Homo sapiens: one gene and its partners. The protein of the gene in region 1 interacts with the protein of each later gene in a biochemical or structural test. Each region holds a gene or a part of one and is shown on either strand. Other genes may lie near its edges.

Evidence for each region. The genes of interacting proteins can lie anywhere in the genome.
Region 2: the proteins of FRMPD1 (region 1) and VANGL1 interact in a test that uses a peptide from one of them, tested with the Homo sapiens proteins (one large-scale study listed by IntAct).
Region 3: the proteins of FRMPD1 (region 1) and LDB3 interact in a test that uses a peptide from one of them, tested with the Homo sapiens proteins (one large-scale study listed by IntAct).
Region 4: the proteins of FRMPD1 (region 1) and FMNL3 interact in a test that uses a peptide from one of them, tested with the Homo sapiens proteins (one large-scale study listed by IntAct).

What each region holds. Positions count from the first base shown.
Region 1 is NC_000009.12:37,734,078-37,738,943, reverse strand, and holds part of FRMPD1 (FERM and PDZ domain-containing protein 1), read right to left. Parts: intron 3,393-4,866; coding exon 3,210-3,392; intron 1,849-3,209; coding exon 1,701-1,848; intron 1-1,700. UniProt on the Homo sapiens protein: Stabilizes membrane-bound GPSM1, and thereby promotes its interaction with GNAI1.
Region 2 is NC_000001.11:115,658,195-115,663,060, reverse strand, and holds part of VANGL1 (vang-like protein 1), read right to left. Parts: intron 3,421-4,866; coding exon 3,288-3,420; intron 1-3,287.
Region 3 is NC_000010.11:86,730,236-86,735,101, reverse strand, and holds part of LDB3 (LIM domain-binding protein 3), read right to left. Parts: intron 2,216-4,866; coding exon 2,126-2,215; 3' UTR 1-2,125. UniProt on the Homo sapiens protein: May function as an adapter in striated muscle to couple protein kinase C-mediated signaling via its LIM domains to the cytoskeleton.
Region 4 is NC_000012.12:49,696,815-49,701,680, reverse strand, and holds part of FMNL3 (formin-like protein 3), read left to right. Parts: intron 1-4,866. UniProt on the Homo sapiens protein: Plays a role in the regulation of cell morphology and cytoskeletal organization. Required in the control of cell shape and migration. Required for developmental angiogenesis.

The DNA.
Region 1 (4,866 bases):
CCACGTTCCAGCCACCCATAGGGAGAGCTCCTTTCAGGTCATGGCCTTTTCCTCGGGTCATTCCTCCAGGCCCCCTCGGCCTTGAATGATCTGTCTTCCTTTTCCGTGCCTGGTTAACTCCAGCATGTTCTTCAAGATCTATTTCCAATACCTCTTCCTCTAGAGAACTTTCTCTGACAGGCAGCAGCAGTCCCCCCCACAACCCCTCCACAACAGCCCTGTTGCCACTCTGCGTTGTCTCCCTGAGCAGACTCTGAGGAGTCACCCCTCGTTCATAAATACATTGTGTAACAACAAAGGTAACAGGCTGGGCGCCGTGGCTCATGCCTGTAATCTCAGCACTTTGGGAGGCTAAGGTGGGCAGATCATTTGAGGTCAGGGGCTCGAGACCAGTCTGACCAACATGGCGAAACCCCATCTCTACTAATGTACAAAAATTAGCCGGGCGTGGTGGCAGGTGTCTGTAATCTCAGCTACTTGGGAGGCTGAGGCAGGAGAATCACTTGAACCCAGGAGGTGGAGGCTGCAGTGAGCCAAGATTGCACCACTGCACTCCAGCCTGGGTGACAGAGAGAGACTGCCTCTAAAAAAAATAAAAATAAAAACAAAGGTAACAGATACTCCAAACTCATCACTTTCTAACTGTTTTACTTATTGTATTAGTACCTATTCTCTTGAGCTGATTTCTACTTTATCCATATAGAGGAAACACTCTACAGTGGTGTGCTATTGATCACCTCTTCCCATCTCCACATTCATCATGGTATCATCATATCGTGGTAGCCTGAAATTACCCATCGTGAGAATGTTGACACCATGGAATTGGGCAATTCCTTCAAACTGTTTTTGTCCCTCTGCAGGGAGTTGTTAAGCATTTATCAGCACAGCCCTAGGTTCATGCTGCATCAATGGTGCTGAGGCAAAAGCCTGGCAGAAACTGGGAGCTGGCCTAGGAAACTGTCTTACCTGCCTTGCAGAGAAGTTCTTTTATACTTCAAGAGATTGCAAAAGAGTGCATAGGTAAGGAAGAGAAGCCAGGTCATCTACTTCCTGAACAAATAAGTGACATCTCTTTTTGATGAGAAATAATGATAATCTTTTTTTTTTTTTTTTTTTTTTTAAGATGGAGTTTCGCTCTTGTTGCCCAGGCTGGAGTGCAATGGCACGATCTCGGCTCACTGCAACCTCCACTTCCTGGGTTCAAGCGATTCTCTTGCCTCAGCCTCCCAAGTAGCTGGGATTACAAGCATGTGCCACCATGCTCGGCTAATTTTGTATTTTTAGTAGAGATGAGGTTTCACCATGTTGGCCAGGCTGGTCTCAAACTCCTGGCCTCAGGTGATCCACCTGCCTCAGCTTCACAAAGTGCTGGGATTACAGGCGTGAGCCACAATGCCTGGCTGAGAAATAATGATAAAATGCAGTGGATCTGAGAGACAATCTTAGGAAATACAGCAGGGAACTAGAGCTCTTCCACAGCATTCCTTGGTTTCAGGAAAATTTCAGATACAAAGAAAGCTTCTTTGTTTAGTATTTATGAAAGATCAATTGTTTACTAGGAAATAAACAGAGAAATAGCTCTCATCCACTTGAGCTGAAGCCTCGGCTCAATTCAATTCACCACCTCCCTTTAGGCTGCCCTTACCTACAAGGCCAGTGAAAGGGGCCTGTCCTTATTGGGGCAAGACTCAGTGCCTCACCTTCTTCTGCAGATACCCGGTGCGCTTGTTGTTTGTTTCCAGGCCAGAGGAAAATGGAGGTAACTGGGTCAACCAACAGCCTGTAGTACCCAGCAATCAGGCAGGCTAGGTCTTTTGCACTGTTGGATTCCAGCAGCAAAGTCAGAACCTTTGAAAGCAAATAGAAATCTCATGTTTATCAAGGACCAAGGGACAGTCTGAAGACTGACAACAAAGCCATGTGGGACCAACGAGAGATTCCAGGTAAATCCGGCCATGGTCCACAGGTAGGTCTCCTGGTGCCCCATATCCTCACTTGCAAGGCTTTAAATGAGGACATGCATGTACTCGTACAGACACCATCGCGTGTGTGTGTGCGCACACATACACACACACACACACACACTCTCACGCACTCACACACTCACTCACACACAGTGGGTCCTTCCCACCCAATCTATACAGTGTCTTCTGACTCCTCATCCTCTACCCCAGCGCCATATCCAAACTGCCCCATCCCACCCTGTTCATTCCTGCAGAGGGACTTGCAAGACTGAACTTAAAAAAGAAAAAGGAGCAAGAACATGTGGAGAATGAGGGAGAGGGTGATAAGAATAAAGCACCAATATTGAGTATGTTGGGATTAAATCAAAGGAGGGCAGAATAAAAGTAAGACCTTTGAGAGAGGCTCAGGAGGTACCCTGCACTAGTTACCTTTTTTTTTTTTTTTTTTGAGACAGAGTTTTGCTCTTGTCACCAGGCTGGAGTGCAATGGTGCAATCTTTTGCTCACTGCAACCTCTGCCTCCTGGGTTTAAGTGATTCTCCTGCCTCAGCCTCCCAAGTAGCTGGGATTACAAGCGTGAGCCACCACACCGGGCCCACTATTTACCCATTTTAATGCCCACCACTCAAAGCTTTTGAGCAGCAATCTGGTCCCATTCATGTGATAAAATCCTCTGGTGGGCCGGGCGCGGTGGCTCACGCCTGTAATCCCAGCACTTTGGGAGGCCAAGGCGGGTGGATCACGAGGTCAGGAGATCGAGACCATCCTGGCTAACACAGTGAAACCCCATCTCTACGAAAAAATACAAAACATTAGCCGGGCATGGTGGTGGGCGCCTGTAGTCCCAGCTACTTGGGAGGCTGAGGCAGAAGAATGGTGTGAACCCACGAGGCGGAGCTTGCAGTGAGCCAAGATCGTGTCACTGCCCTCCAGCCTGGGCAACAGAGTGAGACTCTGTCTCAAAAAAAAAAAAAAATCCTCTGGTGTTCTCCATCTACGTTTCTAAATCCAACAGGAAAGCACATGGTCCATCTCAGTTTGTGCAAAAAAACCTTTTAGGACCTCTTCAGGAAAATTTACCATTTACCACTTTCCGTTTGATAGAACAGGATGGACAATTCGTCCTCTTAAGCAGATATTGGACATTAGACTTTATTATTATTTAAAATTCATATAAACTAGCCTGGCCCCTATTTGGCCCCAAATTCCAGCAGTTGAATTCAGAATCTCTCCCCATTGTGTTACCTTGACGTCCTGAAGATACACTTTGACGACGCTCACTTTCTCAGACTCTTCCGTTAGCTCTACACGGCTGATGTTTGCAAACTCTGCCAATGTGGACATGATGTTGAGTTTGCTATTGATAACCTGGCTAATCCCATACTTGGCTCCAACTAGAAGGGCAATGTAGGATTCTCTATCCTGTAACTGCAGAGGGTGGAAGGGGAATTAGTCTCCATTCGCAAGCGAGTGAAAATACATTTCACATGTAAGCAATAATACCTCTCGCTGCAAACTCCTTGATTCCTACTTTGGATCCTAACCACCACTCCTCCAGACTATTGCCTAACTTGGACCCCATCAACAGCTAAATCAAAGTGTAAATTTATTTCCCCAAAACTCTTTCCAATATAGCCCTGAGCCACAGCCATAAACACATCTGTATTTTCACACCTATGTACCTATCTTCCTGCTCTTTGAATCCCTTCCCTGCCATCATTTCCCATTTAAATCCTGATCCTTCTTTAAAAGCTTACATCAAAACCTACTGCCTATGGAAAGCATCTGCCTGATCTCAGCCTCCTTAAGCCAGAAATCTCCCTTTCCTCTCTGTTGTTCTGTACCACTTCCTCTTACTTCTCTACTAGCACTGAACACTTATGACTTCTTATTTTAATTATTTGTATTAAGTCTCATTTTCCACATTAAGTTTCTTGACAACAGAGTCTGCATTTATCTCTATTTGTAACCCGCAGTGCCCAGCAAGCACCCTGAACCTGTTCCATGTAGCTGGTTGCTTCTCCCACTACCAGTTCTTTCCTTAGACAAGAAAGGTAAAGGGAGACTGGGGACTGGAACTGGACAGCTGGGAGAGGGTAGAATTAGCCCTTAGAAAAATTGGGAAGTTTTTCTTGTACCTTCAAAACTTTCCTTTCTGTGATCTAGTCTCTTTCCCACCTTTTGGGTCTTCTACTTAAACGAAGAATCCATCTGTGTTTCCCCTTCCCCTAACTATCTGATGCTCTTCCTTTCTTTCAAAACACTGATTCTCTTCTTCCATCTACATTGTTAGGTTAGCAGTCTGATTACATTGGCCCATCACTGTAAATGACTGAGATGCATACCAAATCTTTTGAAAGGATTTTGGTTAATATTTTTTTAAAACCCCACTCTAATTGTAAATTGGTTTTGTGCTGCAGAGTCCTGGGGCTGACAGTGCTGGAGGAAAGCTCTCTGAAACCATACCCCCGAGACACTGACTGCTGAAAGGCACAAGCTCTAGGCCTAGGCTCCAAAAAGAAGCAGGCAGGAGAATGGGAAGAGAGCAGAGGGCTTTTCTGCTTCTCGTTTCTCTTCTCAGGCCCACCCCTCATTCCTCCCTTCTGAACAATCAGAGACTCAGCTTGGCAGTCAAACACTCTTATTTTTCTTTCATGATTTCCAATTTTCCTCTTCACCTTCATATACCCAAAGCTCCAGAGTGAACTGCTTACCATCCCCTTCTGACCCAGAATGCCTTTTCCTCTCTACTGAAGTCTGGCCAAATTCAGGCTTCCTCTTGCCTCTTTCCTTAACCCCTTCTCCTCCCTATACTTACCCTGAAGCAAGCAGTGCTACCTTCTGTCTCCAAACTCCACAGCAATAGGCCTGAACCTGTCTCATGGCTTTGCTTCATTTTGTT
Region 2 (4,866 bases), on another chromosome or scaffold:
GTAATCCCCGTACTTTGGAAGGCCGAGGCGGACGGATCAGGAGGTCAGGAGATCAAGAACATCCTGGCCAACATGGTGAAACCCCGTCTCTACTAAAAATACAAAAATTAGCAAGGCGTGGTGGCACATGCCTGTAATCCCAGCTACTCAGGAGGCTGAGGCAGGAGAATCGCTTGAACCCGGGAGTCGGAGGTTGCAGTGAGCTGAGATCGTGCCACTGTACTCCAGCCTGGGCTACAGAGTGAGACTCCGTCTCAAAAAAAAAAAAAAAAAATCTCCTTATGATGTTCACAAGATCCACTTAACAAGCATCAGTGTCAAGCACTCTTTAACAATATTTCTCATGGACCAAGCTAAGCAAATCCAGGAATCCGTGTATGGCCAGATTGGCTTAAAAATTCTTTCTAAAACATGTTTTCACGAGGAACTAAACATCAAGGGCATAGAAACAACCAGGATTATTAAAATGTTATCTTTTACTTTCTAGCTTCCTCTCTTTTTAAACTTCTAGGCCGTTGCTAGTTAAAGCAATTAGTCTATTCACTTAGCAAAACCCAGTTGATAGAATTTTAAAGGATTTTGTTGTTTAAAAACAACTGGCAACAATAATGAAGCAATAAGAGCAAGGCGCTGAAAAGACACAGGAGGCCAAAGAGGTTTCTGCCTCTGAAATTTGTATGTATCCTTTCACTCGGAAAGAAAACAGTCAGATGCAGTGGCAAAGGGGGTGAAATTAGGACACCAACTTAGAAAAAGCTAGTTTCAGTTAGTAGCTAAATCAGCAAGACAGACATCGCTCATCATCAAATAACTCCGAATCTAGTAATGACCAAAAAAACCATGATTTATGAAATGTATGGGCTATGGTAAGAAGCGGTGGTGGTGAAGGTCTCAATCCCATAAACTAATAATCCTTCAACTTGCAAAGTCAGAAGTATCACCTACAGTGAGAGAAATTCCTATTTCAGACGATGGCCAGAAGCAGCCAGGACTCTCCAACACTGCTGGTGGAAGTGGACCGTGGTACAGTGCCTCTGGAAAACCACTCTGGCGGTTTCATATAAATCTAAATATACACTTAGCTATATGGCCCAGCAATTCCACTCTCAGGTTTTATCCAAAAATTAATAAAAATATACATCCAGCCAGGCACGGTGGCTCACGCCTGTAATCCTAGCACTTTGGGAGGCCAAGGCAGGCAAATCACCTGAGGTCAGGAGTTCGAGACCAGCCTGGCCAACATGGTGAAAGCCCATCTCTACTGAAAATACAAAAATTAGCTGGGCGTGGTGGTGCGTGCCTGTAATCCCGGCTATTCGGGAGGCTGAGGCAGGAGAATCGCTTGAACCCGGGAGGTAGAGGCTGCAGTGAGGTGATATCATGCCGCTGCACTCCAGCCTGGGCGACAGAACAAGACTCTGCCTCAAAAAACAAACAAACAACAACAAAAAAAACCCAAATGTCCATCCACTAGGAGAATGGATAACAAATTGTGGTAGACTGATACAATGGAATACTACTCAGCAAAAATAAAAAGAATAAGCTGTTGAAACATACCAAAACATGGATAAATCTCAAAATCATTATGCTAAGCAGGGCGGGTGGGTGGGGGCAGGAGATGGACCATATGATTCTAATTATACTAAATTCAAAAACAGGCAAAATTGATCTACAGTGATAGAAATCAACACAGTGGTTGCCTTGGAGAGGTGAGGGTGGGGCAGAGATTGACTAGAAAGGGCATGAGAGAATTTCCTGGGGTGCACATGTATGCCTAAAACATGTAGATACACAAAGGATCCTGTTAAGCTTCAGGTTCTTAGAAGAAAAAGCACCTAAGATGCTTTCATCAAAACCCCTAGATTTTCAATAAAGAAATTGAGGCCTACAAAGGCTGTGACTGCTCAAGGTAACAGAGCTACTAAAAAATACAGCCTCCAAACACCCATCTCAATGCTTTTCACACCAGATCATCCTGGGGCAACACCAAGAGCTTCTCAAAGTGTTCTCAGCTACGAGGTGCAGAGGAGATGCAGAGAAAGAAGAGCCTTTGCTGTAGGCCACTGGCACCTCTGAACCCACATCCAGGAGGAAACTGACCCCTTCAAGTACTCCAGGGTGATCCAATCCTAAGACTGGCCCCATCCGACCATCAGCCATCCCAGAGCCAAGGCAGGCAGCACTAAAGGCATTTGCTCATTGCTCAATGAATCCCACGTTCAACCCACAATTGTAGTTTTGTGTCCCAAGAACACCTTGTGTACTCTGAGGAATTCCAGTTTCAGTCCACCTATTTGATTATAAATGCTTACCTGTGTGTATGCACAGGTATGTACAGATGTATGCTTATCTATAGTCCTATATCTATCTTTACAGCTGTGTATCATACACCACTTTGTTTATGAGGGGCAAGGCTGGACATGTGTATATATACTTCAGGATGTGCAGAGGGTATGCAGACATGTTTCTGTGTATAGCTCAGATGTTTATTTAAATCAGGTGGGCTGCCAGACAGTTGGAACCTGGAGAAGAACCCACTCAATGGTTCAAAAAAATTAATAAAGTATCAGTATTTCAAAAATACTGTAAAGTTAGGATTCCACATAAAATCCTGATTTGCAGCTTTTCTCAAACAATGAATCCCTGCATTCCTGAGCAACAGTAGGTGTCTGGAGCTGCGGAGCTGCTGTTTCCTTTACAGAGGAAATGCATTCTCCAGTTAGCCATAGGCTCCTTCACACCACACTACAGCACTGACACTGAGGCACTGCACAGATTGCTGTTAACCCAAAGCTAGGTTAATATATTTTTGCCCCCTCTTTTCGACCCAGGGCCTCCTTAATTAACTTACGTTTCTCTACCAGGCATCTGAGCGTGCGGCCTCTCAATTCCTGCATAGCTCTAGTAGTAATGGTCAGTCTGGGCTGCCCCATGTTTTTTAAACTTCTTAGGTTTTCTGAGTTTCCTTCTCCCCCTTATACTGTTCCATTTTGAAATGAGTCGTGGGAGACTTCAGCTTTTCCCTTCCCAACCCTGTCGTCAACCTTGCTGGCTACTTTTCCACACCATGTAAAGCAGGCCAACCAATCATACTTCAGAAGAATCCCCACGCTACCAAAGGGCAGGACAGGCTGTCCTTAGACCAACAAGAGACCATGGGACATAGATAAACTAATTAGCATGCTAGAAAAATAAAGACAAAAATCCAAGAGAACCTAAGGAAAACATTTACAGACAGGAGTCTTGGCCAAGTGGCAGTGTGCTTACAGACCACCTTTGATCCTTACCTGAACTTCCTCTGTCCGAGTAGAATCATTTCCCAACAGGGGCTCTCCAGTGGGAGGTTGAATGGTGACAGACTTTTCTGACCCTCTGCCGTCTTTATTCCGGGGTGACTTGTGTCTCTCTCTAGTTCTTTCCCTGAAAAACAACAATGAGCTAGCACATTTATGCCATGTTAATTAACTCTCTGGGTTTATCAAAATGTAAGTATCATTTTGAATTTAGGGAAATTCTACATACACACACACACACACACACACACACACACACACAGAGCATCAAAACCCACCCATCTTCACCACACTTCAAGGGGTACACTGATCTTTACTCCCTACTAAATATTTTCTTTCTGCCATCCCAAGACCCAAAACAAAGACTGTCACTCTTCCTCTATCATCAGTGATATTTTCTCAAAGCCTAAAATTGTAATTTTAGGATTTTTGTAGCTAGTTACACTTTATTGTAATAATTAGTGATTTGATTTGGTTATAATTTGCCTTAACCAGTTTTCTAGGGCTTTTAAAATTGGGACAACACTGTAGAATAAGCTTTTTTCTACAAAAAAATATCTATTTTTTTGTAGAATATCCAAAAAAATCTGGGACACATTGTCACCCTTCACCTTTGGACAACAGAAGAAAGGAAATTCAAAGTCAGTACAAAGAATTGTTTACTTCTCATTCTTACAGGTTCAAAACTAAGTCATTCCCATAGGTTCTAGTTGAACTTGAAGACACCCATAGAAACAAACAAGCTAGGAAAAAAGGCCAAAGACACCAAGAGGGGTGGAGGGTGTGTGGGTGGATGTGTGTGTGTTTGTGTGTGTGTGTGTGTGTACATGGGGAGGGTTTCAGACCTCCTGAGGAAAGCAGGCTGCTGCATCATTTTACCCCACAGGAACTTCCTGGGTGGTCTTCCAGCGTGATTGTAAGAACCCTGCCTGGGGGTCACTCATGAAATTCCAAAATGAACCAATCACTGGCCAAGCCAAGGTCACAACCTGGGCAATAACCACTTATGGGAACTGGCACTCCCCCTCCAGCTGCCAACAGGAAACCCAGAATCCCCCACCTAAGGAGTCCCTCAAGGGTCAGTGAGTTCCCTCAGCCTCCTGCCCCCACAGCCACCTTGACATCAGCCCTCCTTCCTACAACCACTTGCCGTCATTCCCAAGGTCTCCCAGGCAGGACAGAAGCAGATTTTGGAGACAAACAGATCTTGGATCTGCCCTACCAGATGTGTGATCTTGCACAAGTTATTCAATCTCTGAAAACCTTGGTTTCTTTATGTATGAAATGGTGACAATGACAACACCACATAATGTAAGTAGTGCTCAGTACAAGGATGTGGAGTAAGTGCTAATGCACAGTGGCTATGATTGCTATTACTATTAGCCAGTGTCAAAGAATGGTGTCTTGACTTAGTGATGCAGAGTGTGTATAACCTTGGAGAAAGAGATGTAAATAGAACTATTAACACACAACATATCTTCTGTTAACCTACTACTTAGCTTAAGAAAACGTAGATTTCTTGTCAAACTTCGACCTTATCATTACCTCCCTGGGATAAGCATTGGCTGATTCC
Region 3 (4,866 bases), on another chromosome or scaffold:
CGTGTGTGTGTGTGTGTGTGTGTGTGTGTGTGTGTGTGTGTGTGTGTGTAAACCCTTTAAAAAGAGATTTTGGAAACTGAATTCTGGGAACGTTTTTTTTTTTTTTTCCTTCCTCAAGACCAGCCCCTGATAATTGAATAGATAGTTTTTGGAGAAAATGACTTAGAGCCTGTCAGTACAGTCAGCAACCTCCTTGTCCCTGCATATTTGAACTTTCCAAAAATAACAGAATGCTCCAAGGTACTTGTCTGCAGCTCCTGACAAATCTCCAGGCAGTCCCAGCAGATTTTACTCTGCCTGCTGCTTTGTATTCACCTTCTCACAGATCCAAAGGTAGGAAGGGCCCTGTGGCAGGAGCACATCCATGTCCCTTCCTGATGCTCCCTGGGGGAGACTGGTGGCTTCGTGCTTGGAAAAAATAGGGGCTTCCTGCAGCTAGGGACATAGCTAGCTGCTTCCTTCTCCCTCATGGAGAAGAGACAGGTAAGATGGCAATCCCCTGGAAGTCTCAGTCCTTAGAAGAAAAGAGTTCTAATACATTCCCATAAAACATTTCAAACATGCAAAGAGAAAAATCCAAAACAGGAGTGAGGACAGAATAGAGTGAGTTGGAAGAGAGCCTAAATATCGTGCTCAAGTGAGAAACATCCACGCAAGTGCCTGCTTCAATGCCATGTTTTCAATGAGCATATTAACAGGGCTTCCTAAAAAGGGAAGCGACTACACTGTTTCCAACCACAGAATCTAAGCTGCCTTCTTTATCACCAAACAGCTTTAAGATGCTTACCTAACTCAAACTATCACTAGTATAAAGTAGTTTGAAGGCCCCTCTACTTCAATAAATACTTAAATAATAGCTAGATCAACTCAGCTCATACATTTTCAAAATATTGGCCAAAACAGCAAATGCATATATATCAGTGCATCTGTCCCTTCCAGCAGTTAACACAATTGTACAAACTCAGTGTGCTGCATTTAAAGGAACATTTGAAAAGGATGATGCAGACCTGAAGGTGGGAGGTCCTGCCTCCTCGTGTGTTCTTACTGAGGGTGGCAGAAAGTAAGTTTCCTCTTCCCCACCCAGAGTTTGGGCATGTGAGCCTATTCTGCCATCCTGTTTCAGACACTGTCTCTCTGTCTCTCTTCTTTTCCACAGGCCACCAAGCCTATTTGAGATGGAGGGTACTGGGGGAGACGTCATAAGTGAGCAGTCACAAGTTGGGGTGAAATTCATGCACACGACTGGACACTCATGCTAACGAACCCTTAAAGCTAAACAAAGGCCAAAGACAACCCAAAGCCTTTAAAAAAATCTCTCACACACCACAGAGCAAAACTGGAAAAACCCAACTCTACTTTCCCATCACAATTCAAAAAGGAGCTAAGCCTTCTGGGGATGTTGGATGTTTCAGACTGAGAGAGGGTGGCTGACAGGGCCATCTTTTCTCAGCTGTCTGCAACCTGAGCCAGAGCCCTTCCTGGAGCCCTGGCAATTGCCCAGTGGCTCCCAGAAGACATCTCTTTGGACGTCCGGGCTCCCAAGAAGGTTTTAAGTTTGTTCAAGGTCTGAAGTCTGATGCGCAGAGGTAGCTCCATGACGCTAGTAATGGAATAACACTTCCTTTTTTGGTGAGGAAAGCCCAATGGGTCTTAGCTAACAAGCTCTCAGCTATGACTCTAAAAATACCCTGCAGCGAGTGCTGTTTGGCACTTCAATTTGTTTGCCAGGGGAGCGCTTAAGAACTCCGCAGAATGCTTCAGATTCTCCACAGCTGCTCTAAGCTCTGTCCTCCTCTGGTGACCAAAGCAAGTGTATCGCTTTGGGAAAGCTGCTTGTTGCTTTTCACTTTTGAGTTCTTGGAATTCTGCTCTAAATGTCTGAAGTACAATTCCAGTCTTGGATTAATAACTAGCTTGGTTTTGAGTCTTCATTTGGCTCCTAGTCTGAACTATGCAAATGCACGATCTGTGTACAGAAGAAAAAACCTAAAATTATACTTCCAAAGGGCTCAGTCGCTTCCTCTCTCTCCCCATTCCCCTCAGAAGAAACATCAGCCTCCCGAATCCTTTGTTGCCAGCAGCAGGAGCAGCTCCGGGCCTCGTCAGCACAGGCGGCCTTGGCCGCCTACAAGTTGATGGTGTGTGCGTGCTTCTTGCACAGGGGTCTGTCCTTCTTGGAGTAGAACGGCTGCCCCTCCAGATTCACATGGCAGACCTGGAGCAGAGAACAGACCTGCGTGAGACCCACGTGGCACAGGGCATGAGCAGATTTCAATCACTTTTTTAAGAAAACGCCCTGGCCAGGCGTGGTGGCTCAGTCCTGTAATCCCAGCACTTTGGAAGGCCAAGGCAGGCAGATCACTTGAGGTCAGGAGTCCAAGACCAGCCTGGCCAACATGGCGAAACTCCATCTCTACTAAAAATACAAAAATTAGCCAGGGGCATGTTGCCATGTGCCTGTAATCCCAGCTACTCGGGAGGTTGAGGCAGAAGAATCTCTTGAACCCGGGAGACAGAGGTTGCAGTGAGCTGTGATTGTGCCACTGCACTCCAGCCTGGGCAACATAGCAAGACTGTCTAAAGCAAACAAACAAACAAACAAACAGCCTTGCCCCATGCATTCTAGAGAAAAGGCAACAGCCTATTTCTCCCACTATGAATTCTTAATGACGGAAGCAGAGTACATGAGTTGGACTATATAAAAACTAAGATTCCTGAAGAACAGAATAAAATCAAATGAAATTAATTAAATTTAATGGAATAGAGAAAATATACACTATGAAGCTGACCAATTCATGCTATCTAAAATAGCATGAATAGAGTCAATACAAGTTCACAAGTCAATATACCACAGAGAGGATTCACGTCTAAAGAAAATCATTAGTAAACTAACAAACACATCAGAGAAGATTGTACTCACTAATAATTAAAGAAAAAGCAAATTAAAACTCCCCTGACTCCAGGCGCAGTAGCTGATGCCTGTAATCCCTACACTTTGGAAGGCCAAGGCAGGAGGATCGTTTGAGGCCAGGTGTTTGAGACCAGCCTGGGCAACATAGTGAGCCTCTGTCTCTACCAAAAAAAAAAAAAAAGAAAAAGAAAGAAAGAAAAGAAAATTAGTTAAAAAAATTACAAGAAAAACTGCCCTGAGATACCACTAGACACATATTAATCTAGCAAGACAAATAAAACAAAAAAACCTCAATGGCCTGTCACCTTTAACCTAATATGCCTGTAGCCAAAAAGCTTAAAAAAAAAAAAAGTATTCAATCAAAAATCAGCAATGCCAAAAAGGAACAAGGCCTACTCGTGCACTGCTAGAGACATGTGAGTGAGCTCAGTGTTCCATAGGGAATCTGGCCATGTTGAACAAGAACCATTGAGATGTGACTACCCTGTAACCCAGTAATGCCACGCTAGAGAATTTTATCCTGCAGAAGCAACTCTGCAGAACAACAAAACAACCTGTGCTCAACTAGAAACTGAAAACTAGTAAAATTTCTCTCAATAGGAAGATGATTCAGTAAATTTTCATGGTGTATTTTTCCAATGGAATGCCACCATTTAAAAAGAGAGATGGGCCAGGCATGGTGGCTCACGCCTGCAATCCCAGCATTTTGGAAGGCCGAGGCAGGAGGACCACGAGATCAGGAGTTTGAGATCAGCCTGACCAACATGGTGAAACCTTGTCTCTACTAAAAATACAAAAATTAGCCGGGTGTGGTGGTGCGCACTGGTAATCCCAGCTACTCAGGAGGCTGAGGCAGGAGAATCACTTGAACCCGGAAGACGGAGGTTTCAGTGAGCTGAGATCATGCCACTGTACCCAAGCCTGGGCGACAGAGCGAGATTCCGTCTCAAAAAAAAAAAAAAAAAGGTAGATATGGAAAAGTATGCAGAGAAATATACAAAAAAACAAAAGAGATGAAATTCTTTTTTTTTTTTTTGAGATGGAGTCTCACTCTGTCACCCAGGCTGGAGTGCAGTGGCGCGATCTCAGCTCACTGCAACCTCTGCCTCCCGGGTTCAAGCAATTCTCCTGCCTCAGCCTCCCTAGTAGCTGGGATTACAGGCGCCCACCACCATACTCAGCTAATTTTTTTTGTAGTTTAGTAGAGACAGGGTTTCACCATGTTGGCCAGGCTGGTTTCAAACTCCTGACCCCAAGCAATCCACCTGCTTTGGCCTCCCAAAGTGCTGGGATTACAGGCGTGAGCCACCACGCCCAGCCCAAGAGATGAAATTCTATATCCCCATGATGACAACATATAGTCTGAGGCTGGAGGCATCCCAGAAAGAAGAGAACTAATTAATATTTGTGGGGACTACCATGGACCAAGCAGGATGCCAGACACTCTATATACAGCAGCTCATTTAATTCTCATGAAAACCTTATAAGGTAGGTAAGCCTTTCTCCCACTTCACAGCTGAAAAAACTGGGGCTCAGAGGGCCCATACGTCTTCCTTAAGTCACAGACCTAGTAAGTTGTAGGCTGGGAATCTCTGTCCATGTCTGTAAGACTCCAGTTCTATGCTAATTTTTCCCCTACCCCATAGAAGAAAGGGACTGTGTTTACTTGAAATTGATCTGGGTTCATGGGTTTGTACAGATGTAGCCCTCTGAGTTTGCTGGACTACTAGTATGTAAGCTGGGCCCTGGGTTGGCAATATGCCAGTAGGTCAGAGTCTGCCAGGAAATCACATTGGCTGGCATGGGTCCCAGCTTAGGAGAGGGCAGTGAAGATCCCTGCTGGGGGGCAGAATTGGGAGCCATCTCCAGGACACTGACATCAAGAGGAGTGCACGTGGAGTCCCCACATACAGGTATCCCCCATGGAGACAGAGAAATCACCCCCTTGAGTTGAG
Region 4 (4,866 bases), on another chromosome or scaffold:
CAAAGTGCTGGGATTACAGGCAAGAGCCACCAAGCCTGGCCTGTAAACATTTAAATGCTTGTACGATGGTCCATCAAGTGAAGGTACCTTTGTTTGCTTACCCATACACCTTTTCTTAGATATTTAGGTTTTTTGCTTCTGTTTGTCATCATAAACAATGCTGTGATGAACATCTTGGTGTACAAAGTATTTTCAATATTTAGAGTTTTCCTTGGGATAGAAACTCAAAATAGAACTTGCTAGATTGTAGGATATAACTGTTTTTGTTTCCAAATGGTTTTTAAAAGAGGGAATAATGTATGAGAAGGTTTTTAAAAGGATGGAAGAGGATTGAGAATAGCTTCTTTTCTCCTGATTATGAAAATAATAAATATTTATTAGGTAAATTTGGAACTTACTGAAAAGTGTAAAGAAGATAATAAAACCTATAATCTCACCATCTACTATTAACACTTTGATGTACGTGTATATATATTTTTTAACAATTGGGATCATACTGTGTATATTGTTTTGTAAACTGATTTGTTCATTTACTATTTTAAGCATTTTCTCATTTGCTTATATATTATTCAGTATCATTATTTCTTTTTTTTTTTTTTTTTGAGATGGAGTCTCACTCTGTTGCCCGGGCTGGAGTGCAATGGCCCGATCTCGGCTCACTGCAACCTCCATCTCCTGGGTTCAAGCAATTCTCCTGCCTCAGCCTCCCAAGTAGCTGGGATTACAGACGCCCACCACCACGCCTGGCTAATTTTTTTGTATTTTTAGTAGAGATGGGGTTTCACCATGTTGGCCAGGCTGGTCTCAAACTTCTGACCTTAGATCTACCCACCTCGGCCTCCCAAAGTGCTGGGATTACAGGTGTGAGCCACTGCGCCCGGCCCAGTATCATGATTTCATTACTGCATAGTACTCTATAATATTTTATCACTGCCTTATGTTGCCTTTTTTTTTTTTTTTTTTTTTGAGGTGGAGTCTTGCTGTGTCGCCCAGGTTGGAGTGCAATGGTGCGATCTCGGCTCACTGTAACCTCTGCTTCCTGGGTTCAAGCAATTCTTCTGCCTCAACCTCCTGAGTAACTGGGATTACAGGTGCATGCCACCATGCCTGGCTAATTTTTGTAGTTTCATTAGAGATGGGTTTTTGCCACGTTGGCCAGGCTGATCTCAAACTCCTGACCTCACGCGACCCACCTGCCTCGGCCTCCCAAAGTTTTGGGATTATAGGCATGAGCCACTGCGTCCAGCGTATCTTACCCTTTTAAAATCTCTTTTTTTTTTTTTTTTTTTGAGACGGATTCTCACTCTGTCGCCCAGGCTGGAGTGCAGTGGCTCGATCTCGGCTCACTACAAGCTCTGCCTCCCGGGTTCACACCATTCTTCTGCCTTAGCTTCCCGAGTAGCTGGGACTACAGGCGCCCGCCACCACGCCTGGCTAATTTTTTGTGTTTTTAGTAGAGATGGGGTTTCACCATGTTAGCCAGGATGGTCTCAATCTCCTGACCTCGTGATCCACCTGCCTCGGCCTCCCAAAGTGCTGGGATTACAGGCGTGAGCACCACGCCCAGCCTAAAATCTTTTTTTTGCTGTTACAAATAACACTGTGTTGAACATCCTGTGCATAAATATTTGTGTCCATCTCTGATTATTTCCTTAGGATAAATTGCTAGAAGTGGAATTATTGGGCCAAAGGGTATATGGTTTTTAAAGGCGTTTGAGACATATATCTTCTGAAAAAGTTTTATCAGTTACCTTTTCCACTGATAGTATATGTGTCTACCTTTCTCTGTAAGCTAACCGTTACTGAGTGAATTAATGTTTTTAAAGCCTTTGCCAGTTTGATTAATTAGACATGGTATCTTGTTTTACTTTGCAGTTCTCTGAACATTTCATTTTAAGTGTTTTGGCCATCTTTTATTTGCGTTCTTTGCTCTCTGTTGGGGATTTATTATATACATATGTCTATGTAATAAATGTATACATTTCGTATAGTTTTTCATTATAAAATATTTTTCACGTATAAAAGCATATGTAACTGTTATGTAAGGTTAAAATAATAAAATGGATGCCATTGTATCCACTGTGGAGTTCTTGGAATTGCTTCCTGCCCGTTACTTTCTTCCTGCTACTTTATCTGGGATGAAAAAGCCCTTTCTCAGGACTCATTGGGTCTGTGTTCTGCAGCTGGGACAGTCCAGGTGGCAGCCACACCAGTGCTTCCTAATTCTGTCTGTGGGGAAACAACTGCTACAGCTGGTGAGAACAGGAACTGGTCTTGGTGGAAATAACTAATCTTCAGTGAAGTGAAAAAAGAAGCCAAAGTGGAGAGGAAATGAGACCACAGATCCTCCCCTGCCCCTGAGGTTGCTTGGGGAGGCTGGGCAGAGCCGGGGTCCTGGTTCTGTGGTCAACACCAAAGTATGTGCCCCAGAAGTGACTGTAGTAAGCCCATGGGACAGCAGTGTTGGCTGCCTGAAGTCAGCGTGTCATCTGGTCTGCCAGACCAGTCACTTCCATTCTGGGGAAACATTTCTCCCACGTCTCCAGACCAGTCTCTTCCATTCTGGGGAAACATTTCTCCCACGTCTGAGCTGAGCAATAGCAGAGCCAGGGAAAGGCTAGGGGTTCATCGCGGTTCGGAAATGACTTTAAAGAAGGGGAGGACCTTTTTCTTTGAAGATAGAGGAGGGGACGGTCCTGTCAGCACACAGGCTCCTCCTCTCCTGCTTCTTGCTGGGTACTTCTGAATAGCAGCAGGTGAGAACTTCAGGGATTTAAGATTGTCATTCATAGAGAAGTGAAGTGGATTCCAGAATAGAACTGAGCTGGGCAGCTAGAATTCCTGCATTCCATTTCCAGTCTCTCTCTTTTGCCTCTCTGGGCAAAGTTATGTCTTTGTATCTTGTTTTCCTTTCACATGGAGAGTGAGTCAGTCCCCCAGGAAAGGTGTAGAAATGTCAAGCTCCCTCTGTGTCCTGGAGATACTCTTGTTGTCTTTGCCTCCCACTTTCCTCTCTACTTCTCTTTTCCTCTTTTAGAATCTTCCTCTTTCCAGGTTCTCTTACGCTTTCTGTCTTCCATCACCTCACAACAAAGTTGTGGGTTGGGGTTTGTGTGTTGGGTAGGGGAGGACATGGATAGGGTGTTTTTTTTTTTTGGGGGTGGGGAGCAGTATCTCCCCTCCTGCAGCTTTACTATTATGCATACTCTTCTTAGTTTATAAAGTATTTTTAGGTCCTTGAAAGGTGTTCTCAATAATGTCCAGAACCACGAGGGGCTAGCAGAATTATTTACATGGCAGATTTTGCCAGTAGAGGACAAGTTTAGGCTCTTGTATATTAGTGATGGTTTAATTCTTATCCTTATCCCCCACGTCCATCTCTTTTACCACCTTATCCCCCCTCACCCAGAGTTATGGCCAAAACTGGAGTTGGGGCTGGTGATCTTACCTCTGGGTCCCTTATACACACCAACAGGGAAGATACGTACTTTGTTTCTCCCCTGTTTGCTCATTTCTACTCAAATTCAGAATGGAGAATATCATAATCCTCTTTTAATTGTACGGTGCCTCTCTAAGAAAGTTGACATGAGCCTGGTCGTTGGGTACTTTAGGAGATGGATATTTGGTTTTAAAAACTACCTATAGCTTAGAGCAGTTTCTGTTCTTGTTTTTACACAGAAGCTGGGGAGCCAGTCAATAGATCCTCCTAGTGTTTCCCATGAAATCTTAAAAAAAATTTTGTTCTGGGAGGAAGCAGTAGACCATTGGTTTTGGAATCAGAAGACTTAGGTTCTGATCCAGCTTTATAGTCTTTTTTTTTTTCAGCTGCACGACTTTAGGCAAATCCTGTAACTTTTCTGAGTCAATTTCATCCTTTATGACACGTGTGAGGATAATACCTATCCTACAGGTTTTTGAGGATGCTTACAGGAGACAACATAGTGAAAACACTTTGTAACCTATAAAGGTGCTAAAAATAAATATTTATTGTATATACATTACCCACTTTATCTCGTCTCAGAATTCCATAATTTAAAGTAGCTTTCAACTGAGGGAGGTATTGTCCCAGGAGGGAGTTTTTGGAAGCACTTGAGGATGTTTTGATTATCATACTGACTGGGAGTGCTAGGCTTTCTAGCTGAGAGCCAAGGCTGTTAAACATCCCTCTGTGTTTGGGTCATGTTTTGGTGAGTCCCACACAATGAAGAAGGATCCTGCCCAAAATGTGATTGGCACCCCTACTGAGATTTGCCTTCCACTTATCTGTACCTCCTTTGTCCTGTGTACCAATTGAGGATGAAGCTTCAAGAGCAGTAAAAGGGAAGACAGAGCCATGGTGTGTGGTGCTTTCTTGGTTTTCCCATTTCCTAGCACACCTTTAGGAAAGAGGTGGACCTCTTTTTATTACCTCTGCCTGTTGGTTTAATACCTGATTCCTCTGTACTGTGGGCTCTACCCTAAAACTCATCAAGTGGCAGTTTGGGATGTACATACTACACTCACCCCCTGGTCAGTTACTCAAGCCAGAGTAAAAGTTTTTATAAGTTGGGAATATGTTTGAGAGATCTGTCAACAGTAGTTCTCAATCTTTTGGGTAACAGATTCCTTTGGAAATCCAGTTAAACCTGTGGTCCCTATTTCCCCTCTCCCCCTCCCATCTATGTATGAACACATGTAGTATTTTGGGAGTTTTAAAGACCATTTTTGGATTTGCTGAGGAAGCCCTGGCTGCCAGCCTGGAGGAATGGGAAGTGATAGCTGGGTGAGGAAACTCTACTGCAGGAACTCCTTGATACAGTTTTAGTACTCTTGATCCTTGGTAAGAAGGAGCCCTGGTTATTGGTTCAGATAAAATAATGCTGCTGT